2 linked regions of the Homo sapiens genome follow. The protein of the gene in region 1 interacts with the protein of each later gene in a pairwise test. Each region holds a gene or a part of one and is shown on either strand. Other genes may lie near its edges.

Region 1 (9,148 bases):
GTAGAACGAATTAGTGAATTGGGGTATAGTCATATGATAGAAAACTACACAGCAATGAGAATGAACAGATCATAATGACATGCAGCAACACAAATGAGTTTCATAAACACAATGTTAACACAAAAAAGACAGAAGAGGGCATACCATATGCTTCCCTTTAAATTAAGCAAAAGCAGGATGTTTGAAGTTAAAACAGTGGTTATTTTGGAAGCAGGTAAGACCCAGAAGGGAACCCAAGGGGGTTTCTGGGGTGTTGTCATGTCCTGCCTATCATCTGCGTGCCAATCACGTGTGTTAGCTTTGTAAAATTTCATCTTGCTGTACTTAATGATACATGCATTTTTCTATTATTTACGTACACTTTAATAAATTTACAAAAACAAAAAATTAATAAAATTTACCAAAAAAAGATGGTCATTAGCAAATTACTGTTGGATCAAATTCTGGCTTTTCTCACTGAGTTCTTTTATAATTCTTCTCATCCAAGGTGCTTTGGTAATTTAGATGAGTTTCACGGTTCAAAAAATTGGACATATATTAATCCTCACCATTTAAATTCTCTCCTAAATTTTCCTGTATTTTAATTGTACATAATTTTCACCCATTTTTTTTCTTAACAACTCAGATGTTAAAAAATTAAAGCATTGAGGCTGGGCGCGGTGGCTCATGCCTGTAATCCCAGCACTTTGGGAGGCTGAGGCGGGTGGATCATGGGGTCAGGAATTCACGACCAGCCTGGCTAAGATGGTGAAACCCTGTCTCTACTAAAAAAGAAAAATTAGCCAGGCATGGTGGCGGGTGCCTGTATCCCAGCTACTTGGGAGGCTGAGGCAGAGAATTGCTTGAACCTGGGAGGCGGAGGTCGCGATGAGCTGAGATCACACCACTGTGCTCCAGCCTGGGCGACAGAGCGAGGCGCCGCCTAAAAAAAAAAAAATTAAAGCATTGACACTTCTTGTTTCTGAAGTGGGAGATAGGATATTGAATATCAGGAAGTGAGGTTTTCTGTGTTTATGAGATGGGTGACTTTGTGCAGAAGACTCTGTTAAGATTCTGGTTACTTCTCAGACTGGAGCTAGAATCATGCAGTCTTATAACTCAAAGAGCCTTTAGAAACCGGCCAGCCCTAGTCGACCCACTTTGCAGAGGACCAAACCTGTGATCAGAGAGCTTAAGTAAATTTGCTGTCTGTCGCAGTGTGGTCAGAAATAGAATCAAGCTTTCTCACTCTAATTTCAGAAAGCCCTTGCTCCTCAGCATATACTGGGTATTTCTGCATTATTGGGTAACACTCTGCCTTTACTCAGACATTGTAGACTGTTTTGATGTCAGCCTTACCGTAATCAGAAGTTCCACTGGAGTTATGCATAAAGGCAAAGAATAAATGTAAGATTAAATTGAATGACTCACTGAATATTTCTAATCTCTGTGTTATTTTCAGCATGTAAAATAACCATGGGCAATAGAAATGCAAGCATCTATCTCATTTGTGCATTTATGTGTAGTTATATGAATCTGTTAATCCCAATAATTCTAAGCAGCTAAGTATAACCACCTACCTTTATCTTTCAGGTTACAATTTTTTTTTTTGAAACAGAGTTTTGTTCTTGTTGCCCAGGCTGGAATGCAATGGTGCGATCTCGGTTCACTACAACATCCGCCTCCCTGGTTCAAGCGATTCTCCTGCCTCAGCCTCCTGAATAGCCAGGATTACAGGCGTTTGCCACCACGCCCAGCTAATTTTTGTATTTTTAGTAGAGATGGGTTTTACCATGTTGGCCAGGCTGGTCTCAAACTCCTGACCTCAGGTGATCTGCCTGCTTTGGCCTCCCAAAGTGCTGGGATTACGAGTGTGAGCCACCTGTGTAGCCTCAGCTTACAATTTCTGTTGATACTGTCCCTTCTCATTTTTTATAAACCTAAGTTGTGGTAATGGTTAAAAAGTTGATGGGCAGGTGTTGGGGAAGGTGGAATTTTTAAATTTGATAAATTTAACATCATCTAATTCTGGGCCAGGTGTGGTGGCTCACGCCTGTAATCCCAGCGCTTTGGGAGACCAAGGCAGGCAGATCATGAGGTCAAGAGACCATCCTGGCCAACGTGGTGAAACCCTGTCTTTGCTAAAAATACAAAATACAGAAATTAGCTCGGTGTGGTAGCGCATGCCTGTAGTTCCAGCTACGCGGGAGACTGAGGCAGGAGAATTGTTTGAACCCGGGAGGTGGAGGTTGCAGTGAGCCGAGATCACACCACTGTACTCCAGCCTGGCAACAGAGTGAGACTCTGTCTCAAAATAAATAAATAAATAAATAAAATTATCTAATTCTAGAGTCTTTCTTTTTGGATGAAATTATCTGGATTTGAAATACCATATTATACCCAACACTATATTTCATACTTTGCAGCAAAATTAAACATACTATCTAATGATTTCCTTTTGAGATAGTCTATTATTGGCACTTGTTTAAAAAGTCCTTATTCACATGAATGATGTAGGCTTTAGAACTGAACACCATACAATATTGACAGTTTAAACATTGATTAGAAAAAAGTGAGAGGATTATATATTTTTAATTTCATCTGTGAAATGATATTAAAAGATCAGCATTTGATTACTGAGTACTTACATGGGAAAAAGCAATTACTAAAAATGTTAAATAAGACCATACTCAATATTCTACAAGGTTCTAAAATTAGTGGGGAATGAATTATTGGATGACCAAATTACATTATCATTGGAAGGACTTAAGTTATTTCTCGTCTTGATTTTAATCAAACATTTTCATTTGGATTAGATTAAAGAGGATATTCCTGAAACAAAGATGAAATTCTTATCAGTTGAAACTCCTGAGAATGACAGCCAGTTGTCAAATATCTCCTGTTCGTTTCAAGTGAGCTCGAAAGTTCCTTATGAGATACAAAAAGGACAAGCACTTATCACCTTTGAAAAAGAAGAAGGTATGACTAATGTTAAAAAATATGACCATGTTATTTGGAAAGCACTTTCATAGACATTTAGCTATTACTTCGCTAATATTACTTCACTTATATTATTTCTTATCCTCATAGTGACGTTCTGAGGCAGGTATGATTATTCCCATTTTACAGATGAGAAAACTGACTCTGAGACAAGTGCCTTGAATATGATCTTGTATTCAGAAAGCCATGACTGTGGGACTTAATCCAGGTGCTATGATGATGTCCAATACCAGCCTCTTTCTACTCCACATGCTACCTCCAAATAATGATAGTAATATTTCAAGGTAGTAGAGCTGTACAGTTCTCAGAGACATTATCACATTTTATACTCACACAATTCCATAAATATAGGAGGATAGGATAGTTATTATTGTGTACTTTAAATATAGACATGCCAGAGCCAAGAAAACAGATTCTGAGGATGTTTAAGTGATTTACCTAAGGGAACATAGCCAACGAATGAGAAGAGCCTGGGAGCTAGAGATTTGGAATGAAACCTAATGTTTGCTAAGTCTGCCATGGTGAGGGCCCCTGTTCAGAGCTGGGGGTTCCTGAGTGGGGAGGATCTGGCTTTGAGTGCCAGCCTTGTCCCTTCCTAGAAGCATGATTTGGGATAGGTTCTTTATAAACCTCAGGGTTTTATACAGGTGCTTCATGGTAGTACCTACTTCATGAGGCTGCTTTGAGTATTAAATGAGAAATGTTGATAAAATACTTAGCACAATGTTGGACACTTAATACAAACTTAATGGATGTTAGTTTTTGCTACATGTTAGAAATTTTTCAGATAAGGATACAGAAGCTTAAAGAAGATAATTAACTTGCTTAAAGTCTATACGGTTAGTTGCAGAGCTTAGAGCCAAACCCTGAGAGTCCATGTACTTCCACTGGGCCAATATTTCTCTCGGTAGGCCACCAGCCCAGGCCTTTGTTCTTTTATTTAAGTTATGTGGTGAGGGACCAGATGGTGTTCCCAGCCCTTCCAGTGCTCATATTCTGACAGTCTATAACCCATGTTTCCTCAAAACTGGTGCACCACTGTAGCCTGAAAATAAATGTTGAAAGGCATTCCAGCAGGACAGTATCTGTGCGTAGAAGACATGCATCGCCAGTGTGTTTTCCTTCACCCTGGAGCTACTGCTACAGGTAGAAGAGGAGTCCAGGACTCATACTGGCGACTGGTAATCGGGATATAACTAAAAGATAGATATAAATGAGGATTTGGGAGGCAGGATTTCTGCACAGCAATTTCCTGGGAATGTTGGAAATGGAATTCTCTAAAAGCACCTACATCATTGCTTCTACGCTTGACGTGGCTCTGAGCTCCCAATCTCCTGGGACAGCAGTAGGTTTGAAACACAATTAAGTAGGAGTTGGCTCTTGATTGTCAGAGTCACAACAATTGAGACACAAGCGGTCCCTCTCAGCTGTATCAGATCACCAGATGTTGGGGGTTTGTGGAAGAGTGGGAGGGAAAGAGGATCATCTGAGTATTACTCATTGATATTTTCTGTTATTGTCTGTTGTCATTAGCAAAAAAACACAAAAACACAAAAAAACAAAAAACCATCATCCAAGTTATAGAGTCATATTTTGGTACAGTGAGTTGAATTCCCACATGGCCAAGGCCCTGCCTTCTGGCCCTTTTTTCTCTTCCTCCAGCTGTGGTGTGGTGCCATCTGGTCTGGTTGTCATAAACACATGTGAAGTTTTATAAGACAGAGAGTGAATGTCACTTATTTTCATGATACATTGGAATAGCAGCCCCAAATATCAACAACTGCAGTATTATAAACTCATGCCACACAATTAAAAATAAATGCCCACTCACATTTTTAATTGACATAGAGTTGCCTTTTGGAGTGCTAGTGATTTTTAGCATTTTACTAAACCTCTCCCATTTGCACAGGTAAATTAGACTTGACAGCTTTGTGATCAATATAGCAGGACTATCAACTTTTTAAAGAATGATTTCAAGAGCATTTTTGCAAAAGTGGAATTCGTCATTAAGTATGACCAAAAAAAAGACTCACTCTTTGATGTTCCAGCCTATGTAGTCTTTAACATGTAATCCTTGAGAAGACAGAGCAAATGAATATATATTGCTCTAGTGCTTGTAACATATTAAGGAGTAACAAATGATAAGGTTAAGTAAAATCAAGACTAATTGTACAAATGACACTTAGCCATGAAAGTTTTCCCAGCTTACTGAACATGGGACACTTTCTGGCTGTGCATTAATGTACTAGGGGAATCCTCTGGTAATTGTTAATAGTGGAAGGAAGGGTATGTGGCTGAGCTGAAGTAATATATGAATTCTGGAAGATTGTTAGGCTTATCTCTTAAGAGATAAGAGAAAAGATTCATCTTATGAGAAGAATCTAGAACTTGAGAACTTCTACATTGTGATTTTGCTGATATACTTTGACATTAATATATTCTACTTTGGGACCAAGAGCAGTGGCTCATCCTGATAATACCAGAACTTTGTCTGGGAGTCCGATGCAGGAGGATTGCTTGAGTCCAGGAGTTCCAGAGCAGCCTGGGTAACAAAGTGAGAGCTCGTCTCTACAAAAAGTTAAAAAAATTAGCTAGGCGTGGTGGCATGCACCTGTAATCATAGCTATTCTGGAAGCTGAGGTGGGAGGATCTCTTGAGCCCAGGAGTTTGAGGTTACAGTGAGCTATGATCACATCACTGCATTCCAGCTTCAGTGACAGAATGAGATCTGGTCCTCCTTCCCCCTGACCCCCCAAATTATATATTCTACTTTGGTAGCAAGACCATTATCACTTGGAATCACCGCCCGCCAAATTTTTAAAATTAGACCCTTTAATATTAAAGAAAATTAAAAATATTCAGGATAATTTGTTCTTAAACCAAAAGCATAACAATTCTTAAAATATTGGAAATTAATACTTCCTTCCTGAATTATTTTTCAGTTGCTCAAAATGTGGTAAGCATGAGTAAACATCATGTACAGATAAAAGATGTAAATCTGGAGGTTACGGCCAAGCCAGTTCCATTAAATTCAGGAGTCAGATTCCAGGTAACAGGATGATTAAAATTTTTTGGATTTCTGTTCATCACAAGCACTTCTCTCATCCATATTTCTGAACATCAAATCATTTTCCAGGTTTATGTAGAAGTTTCTAAAATGAAAATCAATGTTACTGAAATTCCTGACACATTGCGTGAAGATCAAATGAGAGACAAACTAGAGCTGAGCTTTTCAAAGTCCCGAAATGGAGGCGGAGAGGTGGACCGCGTGGACTATGACAGACAGTCCGGGAGTGCAGTCATCACGTTTGTGGAGATTGGAGGTACTCAAGGGTGTAGAAGGTTAACAGACACTCTGCCATTTCAGTCATGTTCTGTTGTTTCTGAAAGTATTCCTATTCTACTTCTTTTATTTGGAATGTATTAGCATGATAATTGGGGATTTTAAAAAACCTTATAAAATAGTAGAGTGTAGGAAATTATTTCCAGGGACAGTACTAGGAAAGATAATATTGCTACAAATAGGCAGGGTGCAGTGGCTCACCCCTGTAATCCCAGCACTTTGGGAGGCGGAGGCAGGCGGATCACTTGAGGTCAGGAGTTCAAGACCAGCCTGTCCAACATGGCGAAACCCCATCTCTACTAAAAATACAAAAATTAGCCAGGCATGGTGGCAAGTGCCTGTAATCCCAGCTACTTGGGAGGCTGAGGCAGGGAGAATCACTTGAACCCAGGAGGTGGAGGTTGCAGTGAGCTGAGATCACCAGGCATAGTGGTGCGTGCCTGTGGTCCCAGCTACTCAGGAGGCTGAGGTGGGAGGATTACTTGAGGCCAGGAGGTTGAGGCTGCAGTGACCTGTGATTGCACCACTGCACTACAGCCTGGGAGACAGAGTGAGACCCTGTCTCAAAAAACAAAATTAAAAAAAAAAATTGATGGATTAGATTTTTTCATGACAAAGTAATACATGCTTTTTTAAGGAAGGTGAAATAATACAGAAGAGCAAACATTTAGTAAAAATGAGACATTTCGGCCGGGCCCGGTGGCTCATGCCTGTAATCCCAGCACTTTGGGAGGCCGAGGCAGGCAGATCATGAGGTGAGGAGTTCGAGACCAGCCTGACTAACATGGTGAAACCCCGTCTCTACTAAAAATACAAAAAAATTAGCCAGGTGTGGTGGCGCATGCCTGTAATCCCAGCTACTCGGGGGGCTCAGGCAGGAGAATAGCTTGAACCCAGGAGGTGGAGGTTGCAGTGAGCCGAGACTACGCCACTGCACTCCAGCTTGGGCGACAGAGTGAGACTCCGTCTCAAAAAAAAACAAAAAGAGACATTTCCTCAAACTTCCCTTTCTCCTACTATTTAGTTAGTTATGGTTATTTGGGTGTCTTTCCAGGCTTTTCTCTGGGCACATTAAAACATGTCAATATCCTTTTTTTTTTTTTTTTTTTTTTTTTTTTTGTGAGACAGAGTCTTGCTCTGTCGCCCGGGCTGGAGTGCAGTGGCACTATCTCAGCTCACTGCAACCTCCGCTTCCCGGGTTCAAGCAATTCTCCCACCTCAGCCTCCCGAGTAGCTGGAATTACAAGTGCATGCCACCATGCCTGACTAATTTTTGTATTTTTGGTAGAGACGGGGTTTCACCATGTTGGTCAGGTTGGTCTCGAACTCCTGACTTCAAGTGATACGCCCGCCTTGGCTTCCCAAAGTGCTGGGATTACAAGCATGAGCCGCCGCTCCTGGCCCAATATGCATTTTTGACCTGAGCTTTTGGATGATGTTTAGGACATCCTGGTGGGATGTGTCAGGGAGAGCTATAAAAGGAAGGGGTCTTGAGGGCTACAGTAATATGTTGTCTTGGAAATGAACAATAACTTGGTGGAAACTTCCATAGTCAAGCATCCAGATTTTAATTTGCCAAATTCATATATTCATTTAGCCTGTTTGGTGTTAGTTTGTCTATATCTTGGATTTTAAAAAATCTGGCCAGGCGCAGTGGCTCATGCCTATAATCCCAGCACTTTGGGAGGCGGAGGCGGGTGGATCACTTGAGGCCAGGAGTTCAAGACCAGCCTGGCCAACATCGCGAGACCCCTTCTCCACCAAAAATACAAAAATTAGCGGATGTGCTGGCTCACGCCTATAGTCCCAACTACTTGGGAGGCTGAGGCAGGAGAATTGCTTGAACCTGGGGGGTGGAGGTTGCAGGGAGCTGAGATTGCATCACTGCACTCCAGCCTGGGTGACAGAGTGAGACTCGGTCTCAAAAAAACCGAAATAAAATAAATAAAATAAAATAAACTAGAATGCAATTTATAACTCTACTGTGAGAGATAATACTAGCTTTGGAACCTGTGTCCTTGGGCCATCTGGGGATGTTCTCCTAGAGGTTACATCTAGCCAGATGGGAAAAATACTTCTGCAGGTTATAGGTTATCCAGCAGGTAACTACTGAAGGATGTGAAGGTATTCTGGAGATAAATATGCCAGATACTTCATAAACTGTGTCTTACTGACTCATCACAATAATCTACAGGGTAGGTACTGTAATTATGCTTATTTTACAGAAAAAGAAACTGAGGCTTTAAGAAGTCAAGCAACATATCCAAGGCCACATAGCTCATAAGTAGCAGAGCTAGGACTGAAGCTGGTCTATTTGACTCAGGACCTGTACTCTTTTTTTTTTTTTTAACTGTGATAAAATATATATAACATAAAATTTACCATTTTAACAATTTTTAAATGTACAATTCAAGGGTACTAAGTACATTCACAATGTTGTACAACCATCACCACTATCCATCTCTAGAACTTTTTAATCACCCCAAACTGAAACTCTGTACCCATTTAACAATAATTCTCCATTACCTCTTCTTCCAGCCCCTGGTAACCATCATTCTACTTTCTGTCTCTATGAATTTGCCTATTCTAGGTACCTCATTCAAGTGGAATTATACAATATTTGTCCTTTTCCTGTCTGTCTTATTTTGGTTAGCATAATGTTATCAGGGTCCATCCATGTTGTGGTATGTATCAGAATTTCATCCTTTTTAAAGGCTGAATAATATTCTCTGTGTGTGTGTGTATTTTATATATCCATTTTGTTGATCTGTTCATCTGTTGGTGGATGCTTGGGTTGCTTCCACCTTTTGCCTATTGTGAAAAATA
Region 2 (3,729 bases), on another chromosome or scaffold:
GTATCCATTCATTTGACAAATACTTTCTGAGCATGCACTATGTGTCTGACACTGTTCTAGGCATTAGGGAGACAGGAGGAAGCAAATGCAAAACCCTGCCCTCATGTGCTTATATTCTGTAGTGGGAACATCCTTCCCCATCAGTTCACATGGATCCAGCTCATTGTCTATAATAACTGCCTGGAATTCCACAGACTGCACGTGCCATACCTTATTTAACCATTATTCCTTTGGCAGATGTTTAGGAGGTTTTATTGTTACTAACCCACGCCACAGTGAACATCGTTGCACTTATCCTTGTCTATTTTTTGTAGGTTCGTTCTAAGAAGAAGTTGTTAGGTCTAAGAGTATATTCACCTAAAATCTTGATACTGCCAAATTGCCATCCAAAAATGCTGTACCAACAACACACCCACCAGCGGGGACCAAACATTCCAATTTCCCCATCTTCTCACCAGCTCTAGAAATTATTTGCCAATTGGATGGATGAAAAATGTTCTCATTGTGTCCTGTTCTGTTCTGTTCTGTTCTTCTGTTCTGTTTTGTTTTGTTTTGTTTTGAAACAGCTCTGCTCTGTTGCCCAAGCTGGTATGCAGTGGCACAGTCACGGCTCACTGCAGTCTTGTCCTCCTGGGCTCAAGTGATCCTCCCACCTTAGCCTCCTGAGTAGCCAAGACTACAGGCAGACACCACCACACCCAGCTAATTTTTGTATTTTTTGTAGAGACAGGGTTTCGCTATGTTGCCCAGGCTGGTCTCAGACTCTTGGGCTCAAACAGTCCTCCTGCCTCAGCCTCCCAAAGTGCCGGAATTACAGGTGTGAGCCACTGCACCCAGCCATCATTGTTTCAACTGGCAGTATGTCCAGTTAGTGATGTTAAACATCTATTAATAACCTTATTGGCAAATTTTATTTCTTCTTCTATGAATGTCATTTTTCTTTTGGTTTCATAATTCCCATCTGCTTGGGAAGTTCCAAGAAACTGTAACATAACACATTTGTTAATAGCACCTTTCTCTGTAATCTTTTGTCTATGCATCTATTTTCTTACCTTTTCTGTCATTTCAGTGTGCTTGTGAGGCGGTGCACGTAAGTGTACTAGACATGCCATCTTGAAATAGAGATCCATTCATTTTAAACAGCACTAAATTGCCTATTTTTCTAATATAGATTTATCAGGGGAAGAGAAACATTTGGAAGTCCAAATACTGCTGGAGAATACTGGAAGACAAAAAGACAAAAAAGAAGACCAAGAAAAGAAAAACATTTTTGTGAAAGAAGAGCAAGAACTACCACCAAAAATAATTGAAGTTATTCATCCTGAAAGAGAAAGCAATCAAGAAGATGTTCTAGTAAGAGAAAAGTTTAAAAGAAGCATGCAGAGAAATGGTGTGGATGACACACTTGGCAAAGGCACTGCTCCCTACACGAAAGGCCCCCTCAGACAAAGAAGACATTACTCATTCACAGAAGCAACTGAAAACCTGCATCATGGGCTTCCTGCTTCAGGGGGGCCAGCCAATGCCGGCAACATGAGGTACAGTCATAGTACAGGCAAGCATCTCAGTAACAGAGAGGAAATGGAGCTAGAGCATTCTGACAGTGGGTATGAGCCCTCATTTGGTAAGTCTTCCAGAATAAAAGTGAAGGATACAACTTTCAGAGATAAGAAAAGCAGTCTCATGGAAGAACTCTTTGGATCAGGCTATGTCTTGAAAACTGACCAATCAAGTCCTGGTGTTGCAAAAGGCTCAGAGGAGCCTTTGCAAAGTAAGGAGTCGCATCCCCTGCCTCCCAGTCAGGCCTCCACCAGCCATGCTTTCGGAGACTCTAAAGTAACTGTGGTAAATTCTATTAAGCCATCGTCACCTACAGAAGGAAAAAGAAAAATAATTATTTAAATATAATCAATATCCTAATGCATTCTGGTTTGATATAATGCTGCTTATGTGCCTTGCATCTTATTTTTGAAATGTGTGAGAGAGGGAGTGTATGTATGTGTGTGTTTTAGTACTTAATTGACTTTCGATAATTAAATTTTTGTTTGATTGCTAATCTAGTAAAAAATCTATTTTATATTAGCCAATGATAACACTTCAAATACAAATTTACATCTTTACAACTGAAACATCCATTATCTTCTGGAAGACTGGTTTACTATATGGTTTTAGTATTCTGTGGGACTCCATAGCTAGTAACTCTTAAGTTAGTCAACCCAAGACATGCATCTCCTACACAACAAAATTTATCAGCAATAGAGTTGAATTGTAACTTAAAAACATGGAAGCAGGCCAGATGCAGTGGTTCTTGCCTGTAATCCCAGCATTTTAGGAGGCCAAGGTGGGAGGATCACTTGAGTCCAGGAGTTTAAGACCAGCCTGGCCAACATGGTACAACCCCGTCTCTACAAAAATTATAAGAATTAGCCAGGTGTGGTGGTGTGTGCCTGTAGTCCCAGCTACTTGGGAGGCTGAGGTCAAAGAATCACTTGTGCCCAGGTCGAGGCTTCAGTGAGCATGATCGTGCCACTGCACTCTAGCTTGGGCAATCGGAGTGAGACCGTGTCTCAAAAAATAAAAACAAAATGTGGCAGCAGCTTTGAAAGGGAACAATATGATCAAAAGACTCTTTTTACTAAAAAAAAAAAATAGGCTGGGTGCCATGGCTCACGCCAGTAATCCCAACACTTTGGGAGACCGAGGTAGGTGGATCACCTGAGGTTAGGAGTTTGAGACCAGCCTGGCCAACATGGTGAAACCCTGTCTCTACTAAAAATACAAAAAATCAGCTGGGTGTGGTGGCACATGCCTGTAATGGCAGCTACCCAGGAGGCTGAGGCAGGAGAATCGCTGGAACCCCAGGAGGCAGAGGCTGCAGTGAACCAAAATAACACCACTGCACCCTAGCCTGGGTGACAGAGCGAGACTCCATCTCAAAAAAAAAAAAAAATACATATATGTATGTATGTGTGTATATATATAGTGATTACCAAGCTTAGTTTCATGAAAATCTTTTTTTTTTTTTTTTTTTTTGACAGTGTCTCAGTGTGTCACCCAGGCTGGAGTGCAGTGATAACAATCTTGGCTCACTGCAACCTCCGCCCTGCCGGGGTTCAAGCGATTCTCGTGTCTCAGCCTACAGAGTAGCTGGGATTACAGGCATGCACCACCACACCCAGCTAATTTTTCTATTTTTATTAGAGACTAAAAATGGTTTTGCCATGTTAGCCAGGCTGGTCTTGAACTCCTGACCTCAGGTGATCTGCCCACCTCAGCCTCCCAAAGTGCTGGGAATGACAGGCGTGAGCCACCGTGCCCAGCCATGAAAATCATTTTTGAGTTTCTCTTATTCAGCTAACCTGGGTATCCAATGTCCTGCCTTTGTGGGTGATGCTTTCCTTGTGTACACCTGAGATCCAGTATCATTTATTGAGATTTGTTGCATACCTGTATGTTGACCATTTTTCTGTTAACCTTGTTCTAAAAACCATAAAACAGTACCATGGCCCTGCTGGTGTTTATTCGAGCTAGCTGCTCAGTCCTAACTAATATATTTACTAAACTTAGGATATTTTAAATTAGGACTGTAAAAAGGAGGCTATACTCCCAGCCTCACTTTATTTAGCTTACTTCATTTAGTTATAAGGGCAACTTGTTTATAATCTAGACCATACTATTTCCTTTCCAATGATGTTTATGTGTTGGTGTGTAATATTAACTGTAATGGCA

What was found.
Region 2: the proteins of NMI (region 1) and LCA5L interact in binary tests that used the Homo sapiens proteins (3 or more experiments, as listed by UniProt).

The regions. Positions count from the first base shown.
Region 1 is NC_000002.12:151,272,638-151,281,785, reverse strand, and holds part of NMI (N-myc-interactor), read left to right. Parts: intron 1-2,795; coding exon 2,796-2,958; intron 2,959-5,921; coding exon 5,922-6,028; intron 6,029-6,115; coding exon 6,116-6,302; intron 6,303-9,148. UniProt on the Homo sapiens protein: Acts as a signaling pathway regulator involved in innate immune system response.
Region 2 is NC_000021.9:39,404,055-39,407,783, reverse strand, and holds the end of LCA5L (lebercilin-like protein), read left to right. Parts: intron 1-1,052; exon of another isoform or gene 1,053-1,171; coding exon 1,172-1,902; 3' UTR 1,903-2,056; downstream 2,057-3,729.